Linked DNA regions of Homo sapiens: region 2 is linked to region 1. Evidence: fine-mapped expression QTL. Tissue or cell type: whole blood. Region 1 holds a variant in brackets; the other region holds the start of a gene. All regions are shown on one strand. Distances are between the middles of the regions.

Evidence for each region. PIP is the estimated chance that this variant, and not a neighbour inherited with it, causes the effect.
Region 2: WWC3 starts here. The variant in region 1 is fine-mapped to the expression of WWC3 in whole blood (TOPMed, PIP 0.96). The same link has a PIP of 0.9 or more in blood mononuclear cells.

What each region holds. Positions count from the first base shown.
Region 1 is chrX:10,097,308-10,099,992 of GRCh38, forward strand. WWC3 (WWC family member 3) reads left to right here. Exons shown (of 24, transcript NM_015691.5): 9 at 1,199-1,272. Among named protein-coding and RNA genes, the nearest start is that of CLCN4, 58 kb to the right of the region's middle. RefSeq lists an enhancer at 1,077-1,126. The variant G/C (reference allele first, on the strand shown) is at 1,040.
Region 2 is chrX:10,013,791-10,016,475 of GRCh38, forward strand. WWC3 (WWC family member 3) reads left to right here and starts at 1,464. Exons shown (of 24, transcript NM_015691.5): 1 at 1,464-1,883; 2 at 1,886-2,068. The coding sequence starts at 1,789. RefSeq lists enhancers at 1-462, 463-1,346 and silencers at 1,167-1,336, 1,377-1,436.

The sequences.
Region 1 (2,685 bases):
TCGATAAATTCACTGCTAATCATTCAAGTTGAATATTTTCAGATACTTGTTGATGGGAAGTTATTTCAAAAATGTAAAGACTTGGTGGCCATAATATGTGATCTAGTAAGGTCAGATCAACAGATGGAGCTGATTTATTGAAACTGGAGTTGTGTGAATATTTGCAGGAATGAGGAATTAACCAAAATGTACTACAGTTACTTCCTGTACATGTCTTTTTTTGTTTTGTGTAGGATTTTATTGTCATCAATGTAACTGGTACAAAAATATTTAAGTATATCTACTCGTCACAGAGCACCGCATTTAGGCTAACTCTATATTGGTACTCCCCGAGCTCTGGCTTTTTGAGACCTTGCTTGCTTTCCTTTTGCCCTTGGTTCTTTTTTTTTTTTTTTTTTTGAGACGGAGTCTTGCTCTGTCGCCCAGGCTGAAGTGCAGTGGCTCAGTCTCGGCTCACTGCAAGCTCCGCCTCCTGGGTTCATGCCATTCTCCTGCCTCAGCCTCCCGAGTAGCTGCGACTACAGGCGCCTGCCACTACGCCCGACTAATTTTTTGTATTTTTAGTAGAGGCGGGGTTTCACCGTGTTAGCCAGGATGGTCTCGATCTCCTGACCTCGTAATCCGCCCGCCTCAGACTCCCAAAGTGCTGGGATTACAGGCGTGAGCCACCGCGCCTGGCTTGCCCTTGGTTCTTTAACACACCTCGTGGCATCAGAAGGCGTCCACCAGCCCATCCGTCACACAGCTAGTCCAGCTTCCTCAGACCGTGGAGCTTCTGAGTAGAACATCATTATTTTACGTTTACTGAGGAATTAGAGAATGTACTGCACAAAATCGGGTGACTGGTTTTTGCCTTTGTATCAACTTTTACTAAGTAATTTCCTACTTCTTTTAAAACCTAATTTGTGGTTGTTGTTTGGAATTACAGAATAGATAGATATGCTGCTGCTGTAAAAAAAAACAAAAAACCCTACCAGTTTAGGCAAGCAAGAGTCTTCCCTTCCCCCTCCCCCCTCCCCAGCCAGGGGTGGCCGCAAAG[G/C]GTTATTCAGTGTTTCCTTCCAGACCTTGCACAGATTGAAAGTGAAAGAGATGAAGAATATTTCTCATTGCTGCCGAAAGTTTAAGTGAAGTTGCTATTTTGGAAATATGTTTTTAATATGCGTTTCCTTTCTTTTTTTCTCTCTTCTGTTCCGGAAAGTTTGTCTTTGATGATAAAACAAGACTTGTAGACCGAGTCAGACTTAATTGGCAATATGAAGAAGCCAGAAAGAGGTAAGAAGCACTTTTTTCCAACCTCGCCTTCTGCTTACTTACTTACTTTCTCCTGTGGAAGGAAGCGTGGCATAGTTCCTGTGTGTGATTGGTCACGTCTCATCGGAGAACAGCGTTTGATAGAATACCAAGTCAAGGATCTTCATTTACGTGTAGCTTAATACATACATATGACAACATTTCAAGTGCATTTAAAATGTGAAATTTGCAATATTACAAACAGTTATACAGACGTGATTCCATAAGAATAGAAACTTTTTTGGCTTTGTCATCCCCGGTGGTTCAGAACCTCTACCCCTCCTTCCCTTCCCTCCTTCCAATAGACGAGCATCAGTTCCAGAGGGTGTCATAAGTGAAACCACTTGATCTTTTATATGTGTGGCTTCTAACTCCATAAGCTAATGGGCAAAGCCATGTATCTTGGTTATAAGACATTCAATAAGCATTAGGTCAACAGGTGAGCAGTACCTAATTGATTTCATTCCATTTATGTTGTCCTGTGTCGTAAACCATTGGCCTCCTGCAAATTGCAGCTTGACCCACTTTGTGCACTTGTGTTTCTCTTTCCTCACTTCCCTCCCTCCCTTCCAGTCTTCATCCTCTGACATGCACAAAGCTGAGAGGCTTCCGAACCCTCGCATGGCATAGTATTTTAGGGCGTCACGTGTCTCCTCAGCTGTGCAGGGCTCCCGTTTTCAATATTCTTCTCCTCTCTGACTTTTGTATTCTCTTTTTAGGGACTTTCTCTAGTTTGTGCCTTCTGGAAAGAGTCTTAAAGCCAAATTATTTCCAAATAAGTGCTTCAGAAGAGTATCAAGCATATCTTTTTTAAAAAGTTACTTGAGTCACAAATGAAATATTGTCATGGGGGGCGGGGAGAGCAGAATAGCAGAATGTCGGGTGGGGTGAGGGAGTTCTTTCTGGAAGCTAAACAGTTAGGCCTGCTCAGCACACTGTACCATTCATGGACGTCTGGAAAGCTACTTTGTTGGCTTTTTAAAAAATGTAAAAATAGCAACAAAAGCACATCATATGATTCAGTGCTCCAGGGCCAACTTAAACGGACATGGGCCTTCTGTTTTCTAGGAGGTTTTCTAACCAGTGCCTCTTGGCTTTTTAGGATGGACTCGTGGTGGGCTTTAAATTTCCCCACAGAACAGTGCCAAGTTCATTTGGCAATACCAGTTGTCTGTGTGGTGATTCTTCATTATCATGCATATTCCTTCTCTGTAGCCTGCAAGAGTTTGTGAGGAGCGATTGTCTCTTCTGAGTATTCGTCTGCTCTTGCCTGTTTCTGGTGAAACTGCGGAGTGTGGGTGCTGGAATTTGCTACACTTAGGAACATGATTGTTACGTGTTTGGTTGTGACATTTACCAAACATAGCAAGTGATTTCTTTGTTTTCTAGAGATGG
Region 2 (2,685 bases), 84 kb before region 1:
GCGCCACCATGCCCGGCTAATTTTTGTATTTTTAGTAGAGACGGGGATTTCACCATGCTGGCCAGGCTCGTCTCGAACTCCTGACCTCGTGATCCGCCCGCCTGGGCCTCCCAAAGTGCTAGGATTACAAGCGTGAGCCACCGCGCCCGGCCCATTCTTCTTTTTTAAAACAACCTTTCCCCTCATAAAAGTAATATTACCATTTTACAAAAAATTGGAAGGCAAATCATTTTTAAAAATCCCGCCAAAGGAATGCAAACTCTTGTGAGCATTTCAGGACATTTTCCTCCAGTCTCTTCCCCTGTGTATCTGGATTTCAATCAGGCTCTACCAGATATTTTTGTATCACTGTAACTGTTTAAAAATCTCCCTGATACTGTCCTGCATTTCCTGGCATAACGTGTTGCGGCTGTGGGTCTGGGGCACGAAGTAGGTGGGAGATTTAGAGCAAGACACAGCCCCAACTCTGGAGCTTCAGCTTCCCCAGCTGGGAGCCAGTGAAACAGAAGTTCCCGTCTAGGCTGAAAGTTTTAGGAGTTGACCCGGCTTCCTCCCCAGCAATGGTCTACTTGGGTCTCCGCTCAAACGATCAGACCCCACAAACCGGATGAAGCGCTCAGGGAAGGTCAAGGAACTCCCGCCTAGTGTGGGCCCCCAGGTTAGCCCTTCTAGGGCTGTCCTGGCGGGGACGCAAAGTGGCCACCTGCCCAGCTGCCCGCTTCCAGAGGCGTCCTCCCTGCGCCGCCCGAGAGGACCGGCCGCGGGCTCCCCCAGCTCCTCAGCTCCCTCGGCCCCGCCTTCAGGGGCTTTTCCCACCTTCGCGGGACCAGACGGGTTGTGTGGGAGACCGAGGGCGCAGCCTCCCGCCAAGTGCGCAGAGGGTCTCCAGACAGCCAGAGCCCGGGAGCGGGTGAAGGGAGGGCACTGCCCGCTCTCTCGGGAATTGTTTGCGCCCGAGGAGTCACCCCAGGCAGGCCGCGCCCGCAGTCCGGGTAGGGCGTCGTCCTCCCCGCCCGCCTTCCTCTACGCGGGGGCCCGGGGGCGGACTGACGCGGCGGCGCCCATCCTGGCCTCCATGCGGTTTCCCGAGGCCGGAGGAAGGTGGCGGAGCGGGAGGGAGAGAGCGAGGAGCGCGCGGAGAGGGAGGACGGCGGAGGGGGAGGAGCAAGCGGAGGGGTGGGGGTGGGGTCGAGGAGCCGAGCGCCGAGGAGGACCCCGAGGGAGACTGGGGGCGGAGCAGCCGGCGACGGAGAGGCGCGGAGGACGCGGGGCCGGGGGAGGCGGAGCAGCGGGAGTGGGTGGAAAAGCAGAGGCGGCGGGAGGAGCGGGAGCCTCCGTGGGAGATTCGGGAGGAGCAGCCGGCGTGGGTGGAGCCGCCGGCGTGGGAGGAGCCGCGGGGCCTGGGTGAGAACGGGGCGGGACGGCCGGAGGCGGGGCCTGCGAACGCCCTGCCCCTGCTCGCCCGGGCCGCGCCGAGGAACGAAGATGGCCGGGCGCGCCGCGGGAACGGAGGGGCGGCCGGCAGCGGCGGCGGCGGCGGCGGCGGCTCCCGGGCTGTGACTTCGCGCGCGGCGGCCACCCGGGCTACCTGAACGGAGTGGGCGGCGCGGGCAGCGGCTTGCTAGGGCGGGCGGGCGGACGCCGGTGCACGGGCGCCGGGCGGAGGATGCGCCAGGAGCGGCGGGCGGCTCCCCGCGGCCGCCCCCGCGCCCCGGGCGCCGGGCCTTAGTGCTGGCGGAGGAGGCGGCGCGCGCGGGGCGGCCGGGCGGCGGCGGGGCCCGCGCCGTCATGCCTTGGCTGAGCGGCGGCCGGCGGCGACGGCGGGGACAGCCGCGCGAGGCCCCGCGGGAGCCGCCGCCTTCTGCGCAGCCCCAGCGGGAACCGCGCCGCCGGCGCCCCCCGCCGCGGTCCCCACGCCCCCAGCTCCTTCCGCGCCGCCGCCGCGGGCCCGGGAGAGCGCCGAGCTGCCGCTGCCCGCCGGCTGGGAGGAGGCGCGAGACTACGACGGTCGCGTCTTTTACATTGACCACAACACGCGCCAGACGTCGTGGATCGACCCCCGCGACCGGTAAGCGGGCCGGCTGGGGGCGCCAGACCCGGCGCGGGCGCTACGACCCGGGCCGCCGGCCGGCGCCACCGCGGATGCGCTGGGGACACGCCCCGCCCAGCGCGGGGCCGCCGCCGAGAGCCCCCGGGCCCGGGCAGAGCTCGGAGCGCCTCCATCCCCGGAACCAGGGGACTCCCTGGAGTGCTCCGGTCCAGGCTACGATCGAGGCGCCCCCATCCCTTGGGCCCAGGGAGAGGATCGGAGACACCAGGAGGCCCTCGGGGCTGGGTGAAGATCTTTGGTTCCGGGGGTCCGGGAGAGGATCCACCCTCCCAATACCCCGACTCCCAGGGCTCTGACCAAGAATGGAGGTGCCCCTTCTCCAGGCCTCGAGCCCTCTGAGCGCCGAGGCCGGCCGCCTACAGGTCCCCCGCCGCTGGGCGGACCCTCTCATTCGGTTCCCTCACGTCACCCGCTGTCCGGCGCCTGGGAACTGGGCTCCTGGAATTTCCTCTCCTGGGGCTGACAGATGGCCCTCTTTTCCTTTCTCTGCGGCAGCCTCGCCCATCCCGGTCCCGGGCGTCTGCGGCCCACTGCCCCGGCCCTGGTTCTGCAGGTGTCCCCAGCCCCGCGGTGGC